Regions from separate parts of the Homo sapiens genome. Here regions 1 and 3 are each linked to region 2. The links come from fine-mapping of genetic effects on gene expression. A gene starts in region 2. Each other region holds a variant in brackets. All regions are shown on one strand. Distances are from middle to middle.

Region 1 (4,250 bases), 76 kb before region 2:
TGTGTAGTGACTACCATCCTGGACAGCACAGAAAGGACATTTTCATTATCACAAAAATTCTACTGGCCAATGCTGTTCTAGATACTCCTCAGTCTTTGTTGGTATGGTTGTGGTGGTACTGTCCACACAGGAAGATTTATTTTCTTCCTCAATCCCATCTCAAAGCTGAGAGCTCCTGGGGTTCATCCGACTTCCTATCTCTCTTGTTGGCCTCAACATTCTCCTAGTTTAATGGTCTTCTATATGGTAAAAAAAATCCCCCACTTTGTTTGTTGCCAGACCAGATCTCAATGACCTCTTCCTTCTCTTGTGAGCCACAGGTCTACATCTCTTACTTTGGCATCTCCACTTGGATATCTCTTTACACATCAACTACATGAGCTTTTGTTTCATCCTTGACATTTGTAGAATTCATTCTTGACCTAAGTTCTTTAAATGTGCTGTTTCCTGGAAACAGTGTCTGTTACTCCCACTCTTCAGCTGACCAAACCCTGCTCAGTCTTAAAGTCCTACCTCAATGTCATATCCTCATTTATTTGTATCTTCATTTGCTTAATATCTTCACCTCCAAAAGGAAGAACCTTGTCTATTTTGTTGACTATTCAATACACAGCCGGCAGCAGATAATACGTATTCAATAAATATAACAAATATTATAAAAATAAATGAGTAGAAATGGTATACAAGAAAATTCTGTTCATCTTTCAATTAAATTCAGCCTCATTCTGCTATTCACAAGGGTTTGATTACCATTACTTGTAACACATGGTTGACCACATACAACTTTAAAAGAAACATTGGGAGGATCAAATGATTTATAATTGAATAATTTAGGATAGAGTCAATCCTTCTCAAGCATGGAAGTCTGTGTTACGGAGCTCTTGATGCAATTTATATTCAGCAAAATCCTGTAGGTGAAAGCATTGTTTTCATTGTCTATTTTTTAAAAATCATTAAAAAGTTGATAGTTTAATTTGTCTGTACTTTGTTCTTAATCTCCAAGCCATTCCACCATTTACACACATATATGAATGCACACACACACACCATTCACCTTTTCTGAGGTCTAAAACACTCACTGAAAATAACTGTTTAGTTTTTGTAACGCATCCTAGCAATCCTCAAACAGGTTGTTTTGTGATGAATAAGTCCACTCTGCCTTTCTCTTCCGGTTTAGACTAGCACAAAACTAATTGATGCTAATACTGGAAAACACTCATACTTGTCACTCAAACCGAAAACATCCTTTACCTTTCCTGCCAAGCAGCCTGTGGGAAAAGCTTCAAAATCTCTGTGTGGAGAGCTTCCACCTGGGTAGGTTCTTTCATTTTTATTTCTAGTAAATAATCTCTACCAAACTTGTTTTTCAGATGTTGAATGGAACCAATACACCTAGTTCAGGGGAAATAAAGAAAAAATACTTGTCTCTTAATTTCTTCCTCGGTTCTCACTGTAGAGGAAGGTGTTTAATTACAGGTTAGGGAGCTGTAGAGCATCAGCTGTTCATAGCAAACTGAAACTCTCTCTATAAGAACATGCTAGTCCCATGCTGGTCAGGACAGGCACCCACCTTAGCGTTCCTGACACCATCATGGCCATACGGTCACACACAGCCTCAGCCTCTGACATGTAATGGGTGGTCAAGAGGGTGCCCCTCTCCTTGTTTTTAACGGTAGCCTGAAGTATCTGCCTAAAGATAAAGTAAGGGATTGTTTGCATTTAGAAAGTAATTTGGGGAAATAGATAAATAGAAAAAAGCAGGAAATCTAAAGAGAAAATGTTATGTTAGGATGCAAGAAACCTGTGCAACATGGTGAAACCCCATCTCCACAAAAAAATTTAAAAATTAGCCAGGCATGGTGGCACATGCCTGTGGTCCCAGCTGCTTGGGAGGCTGAGATGAGTGGATCACTTAAGCCCAGGAGGTCGAGGCTGCAGTGAGCTGTGATTGCACCACCGCATTCCAGCCTGGGTGATGGAGAAAGACCCTGTGTCAAGTAATACAATTAAGTAAATAAATAAATAAATAAATAAATAAATAGGCTACAAGAGAAAATCTTTGCCATAGAGAAAAAGAATA[G/A]AAATTGTGTTATATTGCCTAATGATAGTACCATATTAATAGGCTTCATAAAAAAGAAGAGTATTGGTTAAAATAATGCACTATTGGGGAAGAAAAGTAGGAAAGTTGGAGTAAAAAATACAGAAACATCATACTATATGACTTTCAATAACTGAAAAATGAAATGGAAAAATAAAAAGACAGGGGGAAGAGGAATAAGAAAGAGAAATCCAAACAAATATAATCAAGAGTTTATTTGGGTCTTAAAATATCTATTTTTTCCCTCCTGCAGGAATTTTGAATGCTATATTAGGTTTCACTGAATTACATAATAGAAGATGTGCACATCAAAGGTTAATGGAGCAAAATGTAACAAAGAAACAAAACAAAAACAAAAACAAAATATCCTAGAGGTATTCTCTTGACTCTGACACTTAATATTCACTCTCCTTACCACATTTGCTGCTGCCCCTCGGGGTCCATCCCGGTGAACGGCTCATCTAGAAGCACCACTGATGGGTTCCCCAGGATGCTCAGCACAAAGCACAGCTGCAATGCAAGGAACAGCCCGTCGGCACCCAGCCATGGGTGCACAGGGAAACCCCGAGCCTGGCCCATACCTTTCTCTTTATTCCCTCTGATAGAGTTTTCACAGGAGCCTTAAGTTGTTCCTGGAGCTTAAGAGCTTCCACCAATCTGACAAAAAACAGTGTGATTATACATGAAGTATATGGCAAATGGACCTATCTAAAACAACTGTAGGAAACTCTAAGCACTATTATTCTAGATAGTAAATTTAAGCTTCCTTAACGTTTTCATAAATGCTAAATCTTATGATTTGGTTCTTATTCAGGTATTTGAATCATTTTATTTGCATGAAAATTTAAAGACATTGTTTATAATTTCCTTTTAATATATAATGAAGAAATGACATATTTTCCCCTTCCTCCTGCTACAAATTGTGAGACTTCTCTCTGTACCGTGAAATACTGAGAGCAGCATCTTCTTTGCCCAGTCCTTTCACAGCTGCATACAACTCCAAGTGCTCTTTCATTGTAAGCTTGGGCCACAGTGAGTTCTCCTGAGGGCAGTACCCCAAGAACTTGAGGCTGTTGTCATGCTGTTGCCTTACTGATGCTCTGCTGCCTTGTAACACCACCTGCACAAGACAATGAATGTCAGATTCACCTTTGGTTTTTGCTCCAATCCCCCTTCTACTAAAGGAGATAAAAGTGGCCATTAAGCTACAATATTTTTTGAATACGCAAGAGAAATTTTATAAATTCTTTCATCTATTTTTTAAAAAGATATTTGATTTACTGATAGGAATAATAGAAAGATGTCATCAATATTTAAAATAAAATTTCCTTCACATGTCACATACCACTCCTGCAGTTGGCTTTGTGCACCCAGTTATCATTTTAATGGAAGTACTTTTACCAGCTCCATTGTGTCCTAGTAATCCCAAAACTTCACCTGGAAGAAAGAGTCACCATCAATATTTGAATTTTCAAGGTTGACTAATCTAAAATTGCTTGGTTGGTTGCATAACATTTTGAAACAAAATGACTTTTTTTTTTTTTTTTTTTTCAGAGACAGAGTTTTGCTCTGTTGCCTAGGCTGGACTGTGGTGGTGTAATCATTGCCTGCTGCAGCCTTGATCTCCTGGGCTCAAGCGATCTTCCTGCATCAGTCTCCCAGGTAGCCAGAACTACATGCATGCACCACCACACCCAGCTAATTTTTAAATTTTTTGTAGAGATGGAGTCTTGCTATGTTGCCCAGGCTGGTCTCGAAATCCTGGCCTCAAGCCTCCCGCCTCAGCCTCTCAAAGTATTAGGATTAGAGGCACGAGCCACCGTGGCCACCTCAAAATAACATTTCTGAAACAAATGCTTAGTTAGCACCTTGAAAAATCTCCTGTATTACAACATTAATACAGAGAATCAGGGTCTTCTTAATCCAAGACTGGGTTTCTTGCCATTTGAATTGGGACATGATTTTGAAGTAGAAAAGACTTATCTGCTGACATGTGAAGAAGTTTTATAATTACACATTAACCAGGATATATGAACAGTCTCAATGAATAAAAATTTGTCCCCTTTGTAGTCTTAAATCTAGAGAATAAGGAACATTATAATAATAATAAAAGGAACAATTGTTCAAACCTTTTTTAACACAAAAGGAAACA
Region 2 (4,250 bases):
ATCTATTTTATTTTGCCTAGCTTATCTTTCCCCTGGCTGTCCCTGCCCCCAACACAGAAGTTAGCTAAGAGTAAATCAGAATGACTCTGAGATTTGAATGCATTAATTATGTGGAAAATGGCTGGTTCTATTCTGCAAAAGATTATTTTTCAGGAGCTGTCAGATGAGCTTTTTAGTTAATTTCACATTTGACACAAATATTATCCTATTTTGCAAAATATATATCGTTTTGCAGTATTTAGAATCTCAAATCAACTAGCCAGTATGATAATTAAAAATCAGAATTTATAAACAAGAAAAGTAATAAAAATGGCATAATACTATATGGTGGATTTTCATTTATTAATTATGGATATATATATATATATATAGTGAATCATACCAATAAACTCTCTTTTTATTCTCCATTTTTTAAGAAAATTCTTGTACAGAAGAGCCTGAATTTGTTGACGCACGCTTATCTCTTTTTTAACCATTTTGTCCTGTTCATTAACAGGGTAAAGTAAATATTGCAGAGCAATAGCTAGGGGAAAAAAGAAAAAAAAAAAGTTCAGTTACAGAAAGCCTTTGAACATTTTGAAAGCATAATTTTCAGATGTGCCAACTAAATGCCTTATATGACACTGTAGCAACATATTCAATCAGGATTTTAAAAAAGAATATAAAGTATTAGTAATTATAAAATGTCTTCTCAGTTGTTATTTCTCTCCAGGCTTTTATGGCTATGAGGGAGATAAAGGAGATAGTATATAAGACCTTTCTCCTTTTGTCTCAGAAGTCACTTTTTTTCCATGAAATCTTAACATTACATCCACCTAAAGTAAATCCCTCAATAAGATCTTAGTAATTTTTAGAATCCAAAAAACACTTTCTCTTTACTTGTTAAGAAAAAGAAGTTTAACAGGAAGAAACCACTTTGCAGTTCCTTGTCAGTCAGCAATTTGACCACAAGCTGTCTTATTTTGAATTGCACATCTGGGCACATGTATTTGATATCTTGTTAACCACTGGGCAAAGCAAAGTCGAAAACATTACGGCCATTCTTAGAATCCCAAAAAGCTAATTCCTCTTTTTTAAATCTCCATTTATGAAGTAAATATGTAAGATACATACAGATTAAAACCAAAAATATTGGCTAATATGACTAGAGTAATTGATTTGTAATAATGATCCTTATTCTTTGTTTTCAATTTGAAAATCCAGAGCTGATCATTTGGTGTCACAACTATGACTACTGAAGTCCATTTGAATAAATGTTGATATTATATACAAATTACAATGTTCAGAGAGAACTTGCTATATTTCCCCTTTTTCATAAAATAAAAGGCAAAGCCAGCAAAACCCAATATAATCTCTAAATTCTAACTTAAGAAAGTAGAAACATTAAAACACCAATCTTCACTTTATGGATACAGAGGTCTACTTAAACAGCTCCATAAGCAAACCACAAAAACATTTTAAAAGAACAAAAGAACACAGAAAAAAGGAACTTGCCCTAATGCTCACACATTCTAAAGAAGTAAAACCATACAAATTCTCAAAAGGATATTCAAAGCAGTGTCAGAGAGAGAATTTATTGTCTGATAATATTTATATACACCTCTGAATCTAGCCATCTTTCATTTATCACACTAAAATGTTACATAAGTTTTTAAAATAAAATAACTCACTAGTACTATAACATAAAGCATAAAATAATTTAGAGCATCTGAATAATATAATTTTAAAAATTTCAATCAATATGTTTGGCTTTGGCTATATACTTTATATCTTTAAAACCTTATGCAAAGTGAAAATGTAAAACAAATTTTAACTTACAGTTAAGAAAATAAGAGAGAAGTATTTGAAGCACTTGGATCCACTGGTCTCTTTTTGTCCAAGAAAACAATGAAGAATCCTTCAAGGACTCCTCTACAAATGGTTGCCTCTTTTAAAACTGTTTTGATTCAGCTTGGCTTCTGAAAAGCCATGGTCTGTGTGTAGAACATGCCAACAAATTCTGTTGGTTTTTTCCCTATGTTTTTCTCCTTGTCCAGTTACTCTTCAGAGAGTGTAATGAATTGTTGGCTGAGCGCATCATTGGTATTTGTTTATTGCTCTTTTTGGCATACACACAAAAAAAGAGATCAAATTCAAAAAGAAAAACCCACATATTTACAATTGCATGGATAACTACATATTTACAATTGCATGACTTTTAATAATTAAAAATTTGACAGCCAAGCTAAAAAAGGAGCAAATTAAAGATAAAGTTGAACAGAGAGAGAGAAAATGAGGATTGCTCATCTCAGAAATCTGAATCATTCCAATGAGAAAGTTTCATCTGAAAGTTAACTGCATTTCAGTTAAATGGTTCCTTGTATTCACTAATTCCTATGTACTAGAAAGTGTTCTAAGGGTTTAAATGAATTCTCCCATTTGATACTCAAAGCAAACCTACAAAGTTGGTACTCTACTCACATCCATTAAACAAATTTGAAAGGTGGGGCTAACAGGTGAAGTTATTTGCAGATGTTTAAATAAGTGTGAAGCCAACAGATGAGTCCAGAATAGTATCTGGACTCCAAGATCCCTCACTCTTAACTACCACTATGAAAATGGTGCTAATCAAGACAATGATATCTGATACCCATTTAAAAAGTGTAGTGGTATAGACTAGATGGCATAACTTTAATGATTTTGTTACTTTTTTTTCAGCTACAACTAAATTGGATATTCTCAGAATGGCAAATAATGCCTCTTTATCAACCCTGAAAATCTTTTTATGTGATTTTAACTATAATAATACACTTCTTGGTATGCATACAGAAGCTAATGCCCATTCATGAAAGTGACAGAGACAGAAAGGGTAAAGGACTCAGAGACTCTTCAAATGATTACCATTTTCATTAGGAATATGGAAATAAATGGTTCCTTTAATTGTAAATGTCACTAACAACAAAGGAAGCATACTTTAATTGCTTTCCTTTGTTGTTAGTGACATTTCTCTTCCTATTCAGGCAAAATCATTACTAGAAGTAAAAGTTCATGAAATAGAAAACATGAAACTTAACCTGGTTCCGATCCCAGACATTAATGGTAATATTCACTTAAATGGGTGGGGAAAACAATTAAAATCATACTATAATACAGACATACACCCTTCTTAATCACCAAATTTTTAAAATATTTTTTATTTCCATAATTGCTGTGATTTGAATGTCTCCTCTAAAATTCATGTTAAAATTTAATTACCAATGAAACAGCATTGAGAAGTGTAGCCTTTAGAAGTGGTGATTAGGTCATGAGGGCTCCACCCTCATAAATGGATTAACACTATTATCTTGGGAATGGGCTCCTGATAAAAGGATGAGTTAGGCCCAATTCTCTCTCTCTCTGTCTCATGCACATGCTTCCACCTTTCACCTTTCCACTGTGGGATGACCCTCACCAGATATCAGTGCCATGCTCTTGGACTTCTCGGCTTCCAGAACTGTGAGAAATAAGTTTCTTTTCTTTATAAATTACCCAGTCTGCTGGGTACAACTAAATCTGTGGTGTTCTGTTATAGCAATAAAAAACAAGCTAAGACAATAATTTTAGGGATTTCAATCTCCAATACGGTACAGTTGGGAGTCTGAGACCTGCATTGCAGACTTGTCACTCATTGTCTGTGTCCCTTGGAGAGGTCATATAAAATCCTCAGGTCTCTGTTACACATTTATAATAGGATTTGGACCCTTTTCATTCTTAGCCTTTACATATTTATAATTATACAGTTCTGCTACAGAGTCAGAATGTTGAAATACTCCAGATTTAGGCTTATGCACATCCACGTTACATAATACCAACTAGCACCTCCTCATCAAACTCTTCCTTACTCTTGAGTCCTTGACCCCTGAAAGCACGATGGCTTTCAGCAGGTAAATGTACTATATTAATGAACAATCAGAGGCAATTTGGCAGAAGTTTTCCTCCACATACCTCTATTTCATTCTAATTTCCCAGAGGAAACTCAGCCAATTTTTTCTAAACTCAACACCACTGCAGAATCCTTCGATCAAATTCTATTACCTAATCTAAAAATCTAGCTCTCTTGGTTATCTCTTTTTATTTTATTGTTAATTTCTATTACAATCTCTTCTCTCCTTCCATCTTTCTTTACATATGACTGGCAATTACATATGAGAAAATATTGTCACTGCCAGCTTTCTTAAGCTACCTTATCTTATAAAATATCTTATAAACTAGCTCATCTTCTTACATTCCCT
Region 3 (4,250 bases), 440 kb before region 2:
TTCCTCCCTCCTTCCTTTCCTCCTACCTTCCTTCTTTGCTCCCTCCCTCCCTCTTCCCTCCCTCCCTCCTTCCTTCCTCTCACCCCTCTCTCCCTCCCCTCCTTTTCCTTCCTTCCTTCCTTCCTCTCCTCCCCTCCCTACTTCCTTCCTCTCCCCGCTCTCTCCCTCCTGTTCTTTTTTCCTTCCTTCCTTCCTTCCTTCTTTCCCTCCTTCCTTTTTTCCCTTTATATATTTTTAAAGGCATAGTGGAAAGATCCAAGACTTTGGAGCCAGATAGCCTACTATGCACATCAGGCTCAGACACTTATGAGGTATCTACCTTGCTTTTTTAAGTCTCAGTTTCTTTATTTAAAAAAACGTGAAATTACTCAACCATTTCACTAAGGCATCAAAGAATAGAAGAGGCTGATTCCTGGTATATAAGCAGTTGCTTAATTAATGATGTTTGTTTTTTATTTCTTCTTTCCCTAAAAAAAAAAAAAAAAGACTCTATTGGTGAGAAATCTGAAGTAAATAGCATACTCTTCAAAATGAGGACCATTTTTTTAAAACATTTAGTGAATACCAACTGAGCATCAGATGCTGGAGTTACAGAGAATCTGATGGTTAACTGAGAGAGACATCAAGTCAGAGTAGTTCGGATAATCTCCCCAGTGTGTGAAGCGCAGTGAGAGCCCAGAGAATGGGGCTGACTCCTGCCAGAGAGATTACAGATTCCTCCCTCAGTGTGAACCACGGAGAACAACCTGGTGTTGGCAGGAGAATGGGAAGTGGATGAAGATATATGGGAAGAGCCAGCCAGGTGCATGTTGTGTGCAGGGAACTGTGGTGGCTGGAGATGAACATCATTGTCATGAATAGGTTAAGAGGTCAAGCTGGGAAAACAAGAGGCAAGAGATGTTCCAACATCTTCTTCACAGCTCTGTGCTCGTCTATGCTAATGTGGGCATCATGTTACTAACAGGAACAGAGCATAGGAGAGCTTCACCATGCTTTGAGGACCCTTGGTGAGGCTGCTTCATTTGGCTAGAACGTGTGTGAGGGGGAAATTGAGACTGAAGCTCCACACTCAGAGCGAAACAATGACAAAAGCTTATTACACAGTGCAGATAAATGGGGAGACAGCACCCAAAGAGGGGTCTTCAAGGCCAAAGTGGGGGATGTGAAAAATGAAGTTAGTCGTCATCAGAGACAAATAAGCAGAATGCATGTGAAGTCAAATATTGGGTTTGGGACACGCAGGTTTGCAGGTATGGGAGCTGGCACCGAGGCCAAGGAACACCTGATTGTGATGGTCACAAAGGTGCTGAGTAAATCAAGTTTTATGATCTTCAGTTGCATGTCCAGTCTATAATGTCATGTTTCAACATGGAGATTAGCATTTTTTGGTGCTAACATGTCAGCTATGACTGGCTGTTCTCATGTATCTTCATCCACTTCCCATTCTGCTGCCAACACCAGGTTGTTTTCTGTGGTTCACGCTGAGGGGGGAATCTATGATCTCTCTCAGGGGAGTCAGCCCCACTCTCTGGGCTCAGTGCATTTCACACACTGGGGAGATGATCTGAGCTACTCTGTGACTCAGTGTCTCTCTCAGTTAACCATCAGGTTCTCTGTAACTCCAGCATCAGACATTCAGTGGACATTCACTAAATGTTTAACAAAATGGTCCTTGTTTGAAAGAGTATGCTATGTACTTTAGATTTCTCACCAATAATTTTTTTTTTTTTTTTTGGTAAAGAAGAACTTGGCACAAACAAACAGGTTAGAAGTAGACCCCTAAAGATCCTAAACTCCTGCCCCAGGGAGTCCAAAGATATAGGAGAACCAGACCCACGCTGTAAGTCTCCCACTCTTTTAAACAATTTTTAAAGTTTTAATTTTTGTGGGTAGATAGTAGGTGTATATATTTTTGGGGTACGTGAGACATTTTGATACAGGCATGCAATGTGAAATAAGCACATCATGGAGAATGAGGTATCTGTGCCCTCAAGCATTTATCCTTCATGTTACAAAGAATCCAATTACACTCTTTAAGCTATTTTAAAATGTACACTTAAGTTATTGTTGACTGTAGTCAACCTGTTGTGCTATCAAATAGTAGGTCTTATGATCTTATTCTTTCTATTTTTTTTGTACCCATTCACCATTCCCACCACCCCTGCAAGTCCCCCACTACCCTTGCTAGCCTCTGGTAACCAACCACCCTTCTACACTCTTTGTCCATGAGTTCAATTGTTTTCATTTTTAGATCCCACAAATAGGTGAGAACAAGTGATGTTTGTCTTTCTGTGCCTGGCTTATTTCACTTAACATAATCATCTCTAGTTCCATCCATATCATTGCAAACGACTGGATCTTATTCTTTTTTATGGCTGGATAGTACTCCACTGTGTATATGTA[C/T]CACATTTTCCTTATCCATTCATCTTACTCCATTGTATATATGTACTACATTTTCTTCATCTATTCTTCTGTTGATAGGCACTTAGGTTGCTTCCAAATCTTAGTTATCATAAACAGTGCTGCAACAAATACAGGAGTGCAGATATCTCTTTGATATACTGATTTCCTTTCTTTTAGGTATATACCCAGCAGTAGGATTACTGGGTCATATGATAGCTCAAGTTTTAGGTTTTTGAGGAACATTCAAACTGTTCTCCATAGTAGTTGTACTAATTTACATTCCCACCAACAGTGTAAAAGGGTTCTCCTTTCTCCACATTCTTTCCAGCATTTGTTATTGTAGTCTTTTGGATATAAACCATTTTAACTGGGACGAGATGATATCTCATTGCAGTTTTGATTAGCACTTCTCTGATGATCAGTGATGTTGAGCATCTTTTCATATATCTGTTTGCTACTTGTATGTCTTCTTTTTAGAAATGTCTATCCAATTTTTTGGCCCATTTTTTGATAGGATTATTAGATTATTTTCCTATAGAGTTGTATAAGCTCCTTATATATTCTTGTTTTTCATCTCTTGTCAGAGGGGTAGTTTGCAAATGTTTTTTTCCCATTATGTGCATTGTCTCTTCACTTTGTTGATTGTTTGCTTTGCTGTGAAGAAACTTTTTAACTTGATGTGATCCCATTAGTCCATGTTTGCTTTGGTTGCCTATGCTTGTGGGGCATTGCTTAAGAAATATTTGCCCAGACCAATGTCCTAGAGATTTTCCCCAATGTTTTCTTGTAGTTTCATAGTTTGATGCTTTACATTTAAATCTTTAAACTATTTTCATTTGATTTTTTATATGGTGAGAGATGGGGGTCTAGCTTCATTCTTCTGCATATGGATTCCCATTTTCCCAGCACCATTTATTGAAGAGACCGTCTCTTCTCCAGTGTATGTTCTTGGCACCTTTGGTGGAAATGAGTTCACTGTATGTGTGTAGATTTGTTTCTGGGTCCTCTATTCTGTTCCATTGGTCTATGAGTCTGTTTTTATGTCAGTACCATGCCATTTGGGTTACTATAGCTCTGTAGTATAATTTGAAGTCAGGTAATGTGATTCCTCCAGTTTTTTTTTTCTGTTGGCTTAGAATAGCTTTCGTTATTCTGGGCCATTTTTGGTTTCATATAAATTTTAGGATGTTTTTTATTTCTGTGAAGAATGTTATTGGTATTTTGATGGGGATTGCATTGAATCTGTAGATTTCTTTGAGTAACAACAGTGTTCTTTAACAACACTGATTCTTCCAATCCATGAAAATGGAATCTTTTTCCATTTTTTTGTTTCCTCTTCAGTTTCTTTCATCAGTGTTTTATAGTTTTCATTATAGAGATCCTTCACTTCTTTGGTTAAGTTAATTCCTAGGTATTTAATTTTATTTTAGCCCCCCACTCTTGAGGAGATGGGGAAGGATCCTGTCACTGGCCACATGGGAAATGCAGAGTTTGTAGTGAGAGGTTTCCCCTTTTCCCTCCCCTCACTACATCCAAGAATGGGAGAGGGAGAGAGTTTCCAAGAGAATCTGTAATAAAGATGATAGGGAGGGTGATGCCCAGAAGGGAGCACTTGCCTTCCTTTCCTTAACTGGATTTCTGCTTAGACACTGCATTTGCTGATCTGTTCCTAAGGAAGAAGAGGATTAGAACAAACTGGTAGGGTGGGGAGAGGCATGAGGGAAGAGCAGCTGTACTCCCATCCATTTTGTGCCAAGGGTCTGCAGTGTTTCCACAGGTCATGTGGTGGGCCACCAAGGAAGTCAACTGGGCTTGCACCATCTTGACTCCCACAAGAGCTGTCCTTA

Direction of the effects. Positions count from the first base shown, and alleles are read on the strand shown. Sizes are in standard deviations (SD) of each study's normalised expression. Not every link is listed here.
As copies of T replace C in region 3, the expression in sun-exposed skin of the gene that starts at base 2,062 in region 2 goes up (small effect, 0.28 SD a copy in GTEx).

The links. PIP is the estimated chance that this variant, and not a neighbour inherited with it, causes the effect. A credible set is the group of variants that fine-mapping cannot tell apart.
Region 1: its variant is the best candidate, but not a certain one, in a credible set for the expression of ABCA10 in whole blood (TOPMed, PIP 0.86).
Region 3: its variant is the best candidate, but not a certain one, in a credible set for the expression of ABCA10 in sun-exposed skin (GTEx, PIP 0.80).

Annotation. Positions count from the first base shown.
Region 1 is chr17:69,150,792-69,155,041 of GRCh38, forward strand. ABCA10 (ATP binding cassette subfamily A member 10) reads right to left here. Exons shown (of 39, transcript NM_001377321.1): 30 at 4,228-4,250; 31 at 3,444-3,535; 32 at 3,040-3,218; 33 at 2,680-2,755; 34 at 2,514-2,608; 35 at 1,571-1,690; 36 at 1,252-1,392. Among named protein-coding and RNA genes, the nearest start is that of ABCA6, 11 kb to the left of the region's middle. The variant G/A (reference allele first, on the strand shown) is at 2,081.
Region 2 is chr17:69,226,763-69,231,012 of GRCh38, forward strand. ABCA10 (ATP binding cassette subfamily A member 10) reads right to left here and starts at 2,062. Exons shown (of 39, transcript NM_001377321.1): 1 at 1,819-2,062; 2 at 383-523.
Region 3 is chr17:68,786,278-68,790,527 of GRCh38, forward strand. No RefSeq gene overlaps it. Among named protein-coding and RNA genes, the nearest start is that of LINC01482, 160 kb to the left of the region's middle. The variant C/T (reference allele first, on the strand shown) is at 2,404.